2 separate regions of the Homo sapiens genome follow, and region 2 is linked to region 1. The links come from fine-mapping of genetic effects on gene expression. A gene starts in region 1. The other region holds a variant in brackets. All regions are shown on one strand. Distances are between the middles of the regions.

Region 1 (5,538 bases):
CATTTTTCCTTTAAAAACGTTTGTGTCCTTTTATCTCCCTGAATATACATATAGTTTACTACCGCATGCATCTTCCCATTGTTAATGCCTATTCTCAAATAAACATTTTATTTTAGAGAGTCCCCCTCTCTGCTTGCTATCTAGGTTGATAGCACACACCTGTTTACATGCTCTCATTTGTTGCCTGTGTGTATGTGTGGCTTATTCCCAGCCAAGAGATCTTGATTATGAAAGGACTTGTAGCACTGGCACCTTCTCTTTAACTGGGTTCTTCCTTACGAAAGTCTTATCTTCCCAGGTCTTCTTCAATTAGCTGACCTCATCTAGGTGGTCATCATCCTCTTTCCTCTTCCCAAATAATTTATAAGCTCATAATGCTTGTTTCCATCTTTCTACATTTATTTATTTATTTAAATTGAGACAGAGTCTTGCTCTGTCACCCAGGCTGGAGTGCAATGGCGTAATCTCAGCTCATTGCAACCTCCGCCTCCCGGGTTCAAGCGATTCTCCTGCCTCAGCCTCCCAAGTAGCTGGGATTACAGGTGTCCACCAACATGCCCAGCTAATTTTTTATTTTTTAGTAGAGATGGGGTTTTGCCATGTTGGCCAGGCTGGTCTTGAACTCCTGACCTCAGGTGATCTGCCTGCCTCGGCCTCCCAAAGTGCTGGGATTACAGGCGTGAGTCACTGCACCCAGCTTTTTATTTTATTTTTAAGAGGTGAGGTCTGGCTTCGTTGCCCAGGCTGGTCTAGAACTCCTGGCCTCAAGCAATCCTCCTGCCTCGGCCTCCCAAAATGCTGGAATTATAGACGTGAGGTACCTCTCCAGGGATATCTTTAAAACAAACAAACAAACAAACAAACAAACATTGATTTAGAATAAAACCCAAGACTAACATCTTGGGCCTCTGGTAAATGCGTCTGCAAGAACTATTGATTCTCAGTAAATCTTCACTAAGACCCTGATTAAACTTCAAGATTCTCCTGGGTCCTTCAGCCATATTTTGGCAAGTATACAACATCCACCCCTAGAGACAACTATTCCTACAATGTCTATTAGTCTATACTCTTGTTTCCTTCCTTCCATACCTATTTCCACTTCTTTCCAAGATTGGATATTCACTTATTTGAGTAGATGCTATCCTATTACTTCTCCCTTCCAAATATCTTCTGAATTCCAAGCCCTTCTCTCCCACAGCCTCCTCTGGTTCAGGTCTTTAACATGTCCTCCAAAACTGGAGCTCCAACCCTGTTTTGTGCCATGAACCTTTGGCAGCCTGGTGAAGCCCATGCATCAAATAAAAACATGGGATTACAAAGAAGACAGATTATATGGAAATATAGTTATTAAAATATTTTTTAAATTATGATAAAATAATTTGTACTTTATTAACACGTTAAATAACAAAATCTAGCTGTGGTTCTAATAACTACCTTAATTGTGAGGTAATGATGAGTATAAATAATATATTTACAATCTCTTTAATGTAATATGAAAAGAGTTACTAACAAAGTCACAGGCCTGTGAGTACTACTGTGGTTTGTTACCAATTGAATACATTTCAATTGGTGGTTAGTGAAAATAAATATGTAATTAAAAAAATCCACAGATTCTCCTCCCTGAATCCTCTGCCCTAGATCATGGACACTTAACTGGCCTCTCTGCCTCTGTTCTAACCAGAACAACTACTCAAGAGGCCAACCTCAGAGCTCTCCAAAAATGCATCTCTTATCAAGTCTCTTCCCTGTATAATGACTTTTTATGGGTCCCTATCATTCACAGTAGCATTCTCTTCCAGATTGTAGAAATGGAGCTCATTTGAAATGCAAATTTCCTGGACCTCCTTTGATTTTGCTGGTCTGGGTTGAGCCTGGGACTCCGCATTTTTAAAAGCATTGTGAGACAGTCTTGCACTGGTGGTCTATACACCAGATTTTGCAAAACAAAATAGAGTCTGAACTCACATAAGTATGGCCTTCAGTACTTTCACAGTGTGCCTCACTGCGTCAACCTTTCCAGTTCTATTCCAGCCTCACACGGTTTCCATTCATTCCCAAACAGTCGAGGACTTTCCCACCTCCCTCTCTGGAGAATCCCCTTCCCTCCCACCCCTCCTGCTGCTCCTGGTCCACACCATGCAGGCATCTCTCTGCTTGCTTCAATCTTTCTCATCATTCAAGGCAATTATGAACTTTTCCCCCAAAGCCGAAAGCCTCCCTGACTTCCTCACTCAGGCTGAAACAATCTTGTTCTCCCTGACACTTTCCAGTCATACTATGTGTAATTACTTATGTCAGGCCTCTGCAAAGGCAGAGGGCTTCAAACTCTGAGCTTCCTAAAAGATTGCTGTGAATTCATTTAGCATTCACCATACACAAGAAGAAGGAGAAAGTATTGCGCAGCAATTAGGTACTGGGTAAACTAGTCACTAGGGGAATAAGACAATGTCCTTACTTTCAAAGAGTTTGTGTTCCCTGTTCATCTTCCTCACTGTTTATCTACTCTAGCCCTTTCTAAACAGTCCTGAAGTAATCTATTTCAGCCCACATTAATCTTTTATTGTTTGACCCCCGCCCCTAGACGGATAATCAGAATCATGCTGTTTTGGCATTCATTCATTCATTCATTCATTCATTCATTCATTAACTGACTCATTCATGGTTTATTGAGTTCCTACTATGTACTAGGCAATATGATAGTCACTGGGTATATATAACATGGGAACAAGACAGTACATGCCCTTAAAGTTCTTAGAGTGTCGTTAACTGCTCTCTCGTTGCTATTTTTGTTTCCCTCACGAGGCTGGAAGCTCTTTGAAAGCAGGGAAAGACTTGTGTTTTTTGTAGTCTTCACTGCCACTAGCCTAGCACATTGCTGACACAGCGAGTGTTCAAATACCCTTGAAAGAGTGAGTAAAATACTTGTTTTCCAAGCCGCCTTTCCCATTCAGAGCTTCTCTTACCTGATACTGCTGATCTGAAAGAAAAGGAGCCTCTTTGCAGTGCCCTCAGGAAAAGCTCCTTCGAGAGCTGGAGGTGGGAGTTTGACTCTCCTCTCTCAGAAAAAGAAATCGCAAGGGCACAAACCGCAGCAACTCTGCCGACTGTTGCCAGGACGCATCTGTCGCTAAGAGAAAAGAGGCGAGTCCTCTGCGAGACTGACAGAGCATCTCTACCAATACAGTGTCCGCTCCCTAACAGTATCTTTCAAAGCAGACTTGTGATTGGTTGCCACTATGTGACGTCACTCAACGCGAACCGGGTGAGGCCAGCAGCTTTCCACTACCAAGGAAAGAGTTTTGTGTCTTAAGTATATTAATGACAGTGGCCCGGCCTGACCCCAGGTCTAACAGGCTCGGTCCATGCCTCACACCCACCGCAATCTCAGCCAGAGAAGAATCTTTCTGGGGTGTGGACCCTAGGAACCAGGAGAGAAAATGTTAAGGAGGCTGCCCGCTCAGAATCCTTTCGGGCAGCTTTCCTGCCCACCCCCTGCAGCGAGCTGGGCCCTCCTAGGGAGTGGAGAGGAAGCTGCGCCCCACTGGTTGTCGTGGGCGCCCCAGAACCCTAATGGGTTACATTTCCTTCTTGCCAGAATAACTTTTGTTTAGAATTTGACTCAAGCTGTAAATATGAGTCTCCGGGGAAGAAACTTGAATCCGTGAGTAACCCAAGGTTCATTTTATCTGTGATTAGGAGTCCGGTGGGATTCATACAGTGACGCTCAACTCTCTGAACACTGTTCTCCTCCTTTCCCTTAAAAAATAATTATAACTGTCTAATTTGTAAAGTGGCAGAATTTAATAAAGTAATGTAATTGACTGCTGTAATTGGTGTAAATAAATTTTCACACCTAATTTAAATAAAATCTTTAATTGAGAAAAGGCTGATCATTTATAACATATGAGAGTTCAGGGGGCTGCTGCGGTGGCTCATGCCTGTAATCCCAGCACTTTGGGAGGCTGAGGAAGGCAGATCACGAGGTCAGGAGATCGAGACTATCCTGGCTAACACGGTGAAACCCCGTCTCTACTAAAAATACAAAAAAATTAGCCAGGCGTGGTGGCGTGCACCTGTAAGTCCCAGCGACTCAGAAGGCTGAGGCAGGAGAATCGCTTGAACCTGGGAGCCAAGATCGCACCACTGCACTCCAGCCTGGGCGACAGAGCGAGGGTCCGTCTTAAAAAATAATAATAATAATAACTTCCTAATTTGTAAACTGGCAGAATTTAATAAAGCAATGTAATTGACTTCTGTAATTGGTCTAAATTAATTTTTACACCCAATTTAAATAAAATCTTTAATTGAGAAGAGGCTAATCATTTATAACATATGAGACTTTAAGGATCCTGAATGAAGATTTTTACGTTATGTGCAGAAAGATTATATAGATTCTTTCAAATTTCTGAAGAATTTGTGTTCACAAAATTCAAATGAATTTTACAATACAAATTATGAAGGAAAAAAACTAAAAAAGAGGTATTATCTAAACATTCTGACAACTTTTTTCCAGCTTGTCCACTCCCAGGAAGTGGAAGATTCGTTTTCCCCTGGGCTCAGTCTTGAGTCTTCTTTTGTCACTCTTCGCACTCTCCTGGTGGCGTCGGCATCATATATTCCCCTTAGCTTCAGCCATCACCACTAAACACACTGGACTTCCATTTCTACATTCTCAGCCTAACATATCTCTTAAATTCCATACCTGAATTTCCTCTAGCTACTGGACATTTCCAACTACCTGTGTAGTTCAGTTCATGTTGTTTAATAGATGCTAAATAAAGATTAAATGTAGTGAATGAATGAATGACCATAGCACCACAACTTAGCAGAGCCAAAGTCAACTCATTATCTTTCAGAAACTTTTTTTCCTTCTTTATTTTCTACCCTAGGTAATAGTATCATTGTCCATCAGTTGCAAAACGAAATCTGAAAGTCATCCTTGACTCCTCTTCTACTGCCCACAGTCAACATATCATTTAAGTTCTGTCATTTTTCTTTCTTAATTGTCTCTCAAATAATCCATTTTCTCTTAGCCATCCTCTGCCTCTGCCTTATTTCAGATATGCCTTATCTCTCACCTAGACGGTAGCAATAGTCTTTTGACTTGTTCTATCTCTTTCCCTCTAATTTATTTGCCAAGTTGCCACATAATTTTCCATAGTTTGAATCCTGACGTCACCCTGCTTAAATATGCTCAATCTGGCATATGAAACCCTGTATAAACAGGGTTCTGAAAGACACTGGAAATAAATCTGGAAGGTAATTAGTTATTTTTCTAACCTCATTTCCTGCCTCTGTCCCCAGCCCAACCCACATTTTAGTCCAGTGCTTCTTAACTGAAGACCCTTAACAGCCAAGGAGCAGGAAATCACAGGGGCCAGGAGTGAGTAGTAGGTTGATGGAAAGAAGGTTTATAACATGAAATAGACTTCTGCAACTGAGACATATTTGTTTCATATAAAGAATTTATGAAGTTTTTGCATTTGGCTTTGCAATGGATTCGTGTTTGTTTCAATTTTTAAAAAAATGTCTAAAGCC
Region 2 (5,000 bases), 54 kb before region 1:
TTCTGCTTTAAGATCTTGCAGTCACTGATTTTTCTAAATCTGGTCTGATGGTGTCATTCCCCTGCTTTATAAACTTTGGTGCACAAAAGGACAAATATTGTATAATTCCACTTACGTGAGGTATCTAGAATAGTCACATTCGTAGATACAGAAAGTAGATGGTGGTTACAAGTGGGTAGGGAAAGAAAGGAAGAGGGAGTTAGTGTTTAGTGCGTACAGACGCCCAGTTTGGGATGAGGAAAAGTTCTGGACATGGATGGTGGTGATGGTTGTACAATATGAATGTACTTTTCCAACAGATTATTGAACTCCTTTGGGAAAGGAGTTTCTTAATACCACTGAATTGTACATTTAAAAATGGCTAAGATGATTAATTTTATGTTACATATATTTTACCACAATTAAAAAAATTTTTTAAACTTTGCTGTGAAACCCAAGTTATAAAGCACATATTTATTTGGTAGTGTTGCATTGCTTACTAAATGAAACTCAAATTACCTAACACAGCAGGAAAGGCTCTTCAGTATTGGATTCCAACCAGGCATTCTAGACATACCTTTCCCTCTTACACCAAACTATTTCACTAACTCCAGACAAATACTGGGCTTTCATAACTCCAAATATTGTTCAGGCTGTTACTTCTGCTTGGAATTCTACTCTCAACCTGACCTTTGAGATTCCTTCTCAACCTCCAACATCCAAGCAGCCTGTGGGTCACCTTCCCCAACCTCCTTCTTCCTATCGGAATGGCCTCTGGACTGGTGTTGGTGTTTATCATGTGTCTGCTCCTCGACTAGGCAGAAAGTGCCTTGAGGAGAGAGGGACCATGCTATTCACTTCTGATCCCAGCACCCAGTGCTGTGCCTGAGACACAGTCATGTTCTCCAGAGCTTGTGGAATTGATTGCTTTCCTCTTCATACCAAAGTGTGGATGAAGATTGCATTCTGGTGAGACTGAGCTATGGCCTCTTCTCATGGTGACTTGGCCTGGGAAAAATACTCTGTATTTCAGGGAATGAGAGTCATGAGTGAAAAGAGCATCTCTGCCTCTGTATGACTGTAGATAAAGTTCTGAGCCTCATTTCTTCATTTATAAAATGGCAATAATAATACCAACCTTACAGGATTACTGGGATTAAATGGGATATAATTTGGAAAATAACTTGGCACAGACACTGATACATAGAAAATGTCCAGTAAATGTGAACTCGCTTTGGTTATTATTACAGTATGTCCTTAGAAAATGGCAGCCATTATCATTATTATATCCAATTGTTATTTATCTTTTGAAATGAGTGAGTTTTTTCTGTCTCTTCTACTAGATTGTGTTAGCCCAACAAAACACTATAGTTTCTTAGTAAATCTCTAACACTTAGTATGGTTTCTTCCAAATGATAAAGGTATTTGATGAATATTTGTAGATTGAACAATATATTATTAGTTAAAAAGTATGCAATTTTACAGATTTGTCCACATACGTTCAGGAACATTTTAAAGGTGAAACTATGAGGTATCAGAGTTAAAAATGTTTAATGCAAACAAGCATACTAAAATATGAAAATGGTATAACTTTTATGTCTTTACACAGCAAAAATGTACAGTAGATATTGTAATAACATATTTTAGTATAAATAAGTATTAATTTTAAAAGCAGATAATCCCAATTTACCTCTGTTCCCACAAAGAACTTTGTGCAGAAGTCATCTATTGGCTTGAGAAGATTGGCCATCCCACTTTCCAGATTATGATACGGGTTCATTTCTTCTGCCTTCTCTGTTTTGCTCTGTGCTAACATTTTGTCTTTCAGAGGAGTGTGGGTAGAAGAAGTACATATTTACAGGGAAACATCTTTTAAAATATAGACAGTTTACATTTTCTGCCCCTTGCC[A/T]CCTGCATTTGCCCCATTCCCTTCCCAATGTAGTGAGCATAAGTCCAAGCATTTTTAGATTTCTAATTTAGCAAAAGAACCCTCTTTTGTTCCAAACCAAACATCAATGACTGTGCTATATTATAGCTCTAGCTATACCTGCACATAGTGTAAGAGCATAGGTAATTCGGGGGCTGAAACACAAACATCATCGGCAACCTGTTTCTTTTTAAAAGTATTTGATGTCACCTTGTTTTAAAAGTCTTTTTGTAATCTAAAATTAATAAATGTTATTTATTTAAGCCTTGGAGAATAAAGAAAAGCATGAGTAAAAGAACGAAAATCATCCATTATCATGTCTCCCAGAGATAATATTAAAATATTGTGACTTTTCTTGTAAATTCACTTTTTTTTAAAAAACTGGATAATATCCTATTTTAGTTTTATATGCTGCTTTTCTATTCTCTTAAAGCTATGTCCTAAACATTTTTCCAGGTAACTTACTAGATTTTTGAAAATATGATATTCAATTCCTGGGAAAGATGGTAGAGAAATATATGCTCATAAAACCCTCCTCTACCACACTTCCTCAATATGTCCTCTGAGTCATATTACCCAAGAGGAAACAAAAAGCCATAAAACCAACCAACAAACAGACAAGTGAAAACTAAAACAGGAGAATAAAACTTCAGCTATACTAAAAAGACATATTACATTTAAAAAAAACTTTAGCATAATTCTGGACAAAACTTAAAAATGATTATCATGATTTAGTTGGTATAGTCAACCAATACTCTCTTTGTTTTGGATCTACATGTTTTGAGACGTATCTTTTCCCACTAAGTAAGACATCAAAAACGAGTATCAAAATGAACCAAACATCGAACTAGATCTTTAAATAGCTGTATTACAAAGTGTAAACCAACATTTCAAACATGACTGGGCATATTCAATCACATTATTCTCATTAAAAGATATTATTTATAATACATGTAGGAAGAGCAAAAAGGCATTTTGTACCCATTTAATGTATACAATTAAAATCATTAAAATATTTATTTCAAATTCTTCACTCACATTTCAATGTCTGTTCCTCTCTTTTTAAATCATGTACACAAATATATTAGAGAAGTAGAATATGTATATAATTTGTAAATACATATACATACATTGAGAATCTGAACTCAGAAATGTTAAACAAGGGGCTATAAGATTAAAAGTGTGGAGACTTCTGGTCTCACAAGGGGAGACAAGACCCTGATCTATAGGGTTACAACTGATAATGAAAAGGAAGAGGCAAAGGTGCGATAAATGTAAAGGAAAACATGATTAACTTGAGTGAGAGACTGGAAGTGGAGGCCTGAAGAGAGAATCAGGAATGACTCAAGTTATCAATCCTGTTCTGGACACATTGACTTGGATAGGGTAGATTGGGTTTAAACCCAGGAGACAGCAAGAGTCAGATGGAGAATTCTCAGCAGAGATAAAAGTTAGAGCCATGCAGGTAGACTGTGTTACCAATGAGGAAAGTACACAGCTGAAGCTAAAGTTCAAGGTACATTCATGAGTAGATGGCAGCAAGGTGAAATGGAGCCAGGAAAGGAGATAGAGGAGGAATAACGGAAGAAGTAGCAGGATAGGAAAATCACAGATGCTAAGAGAAGTGTGCGCTCCAAGAAAATAGGCTGAGTTAATAGCATTTAATGTGGTAGAGCAGGGGTCTGCAGCCCCTGGGCCACAGATACTGGTTCGTGGCCTGGTAGGAACTGGTCAGCACAGCAGGAGACAAGCAGCAGGTGGGCGAAAGAGCATTACTGCCTGAGCAGTATGTCCTGTCAGACAGCAGCAGCATTACATTCTCACAGAAGCGTGAACACTATTGTGAACTGGACATTCAAGGGATCTAGGTTGCACGCTCCTTATGGGAATCTAATGCCTGCCCCCCTGCCCCCACCTCCCCCTGCCACCCAGTGGAGAAATTATCTTCCACAAAACTGGTCCCTGGTGCAAAAAAGGTTGGGGAAGGCTATGATAGAGTCAAAGAAGGTGAGGCTAGGGAAAAACGTTATTAACTATGTTTATTCAGAGTTGACGGGAATAACTTTGGATACTTAGATTCAAAATCATCCTCATAGGTCATGGATTTCCCATCCTTTGAGATAGTAATAATAACAGCATCTGACATTTATTGAATGCTTACTACATGCCAGGCACTAAAGTGTGTGCTTTATAGGAACCATTTCATTCAGTCCTCACAAGAACTTCCAGGTGGTTATGCATTCATCCTCCTCCAAGGATGAGTAAACTGAGGCTTAGAGAGATTAAGTAATTTATGCAAGGTCTCACACATGGTAGTTAACATTTGCTGTGTGTTGACTATGTGCTATTCTGAGAGCTTCGTGTATAACTCATTTCATCTTCACAACACCCTATGAGGTAGTTCTCTTTATTATTTACTCCCCTCATCTTCCTCACTCTATTTTCAAATGGATTTAAAAGCAAAAAAACAACTAAGGTACAGAGAGGTAAAGTAATTTAACTTGGTCAAATAATACATTGTGGCTTTGGGATTTAAACCCAGACCATCAACTCCAGAATCTACCGTCATAGCTGCTATGCCACATTGCTTAGAAGAATATATGTCAGGCTCTAAAGGCTATTCCAACAGAGGAATTCCAAAAGCATTTAGAGCAAGGGTTTCCTTATCAGAATAAATACAGAATTTCTTAAAGTGACCACTTAGAAGAGCATGGGTTGTCATGGACCTAAAATGGCAGACAAAGGGTGGGTGGTCCCTGGCCATTAGATAGTGACAGAGTACCAGACACTGACACTAAGTCTCAACAGGCCTCAAGAGAAAATGGTGGGATAGCGAGGACTTGTGATACAGTCAAAGGAGAAACCAGTACAGGATCAAGAATCAAAATGTGATCAAGAACCTTATGAGTATATTCTAGTTAACAGGGCCAAGTCTGGTCAGAATGGGCGGATAGTCGGCAGTGTGACCAAAGGAAATCTGAAATACCATAGTTGATCTCAAAGTCTTGAAAGCTGGCCATTCACACAGGAGGCAGATCATGGCCATAGAGTGACCTTCCTCCAAAGATCAGGAACAAAACAGGGATGTCCACTC

Direction of the effects. Alleles are on the strand shown, and positions count from the first base shown. SD is a standard deviation of normalised expression in the study named.
In carriers of allele T in region 2, the expression in testis of the gene that starts at base 3,123 in region 1 tends to be lower than with A alone (small effect, 0.21 SD a copy in GTEx).

What was found. PIP is the estimated chance that this variant, and not a neighbour inherited with it, causes the effect.
Region 2: its variant is the best candidate, but not a certain one, in a credible set for the expression of DNAI3 in testis (GTEx, PIP 0.63).

The regions. Positions count from the first base shown.
Region 1 is chr1:85,059,912-85,065,449 of GRCh38, reverse strand. It overlaps DNAI3 (dynein axonemal intermediate chain 3), which reads right to left and starts at 3,123. Exons shown (of 23, transcript NM_145172.5): 1 at 2,964-3,123. RefSeq lists an enhancer at 2,988-3,488.
Region 2 is chr1:85,114,529-85,119,528 of GRCh38, reverse strand. DNAI3 (dynein axonemal intermediate chain 3) reads right to left here. Exons shown (of 23, transcript NM_145172.5): 17 at 1,670-1,800. Among named protein-coding and RNA genes, the nearest start is that of MIR4423, 17 kb to the left of the region's middle. The variant A/T (reference allele first, on the strand shown) is at 1,889.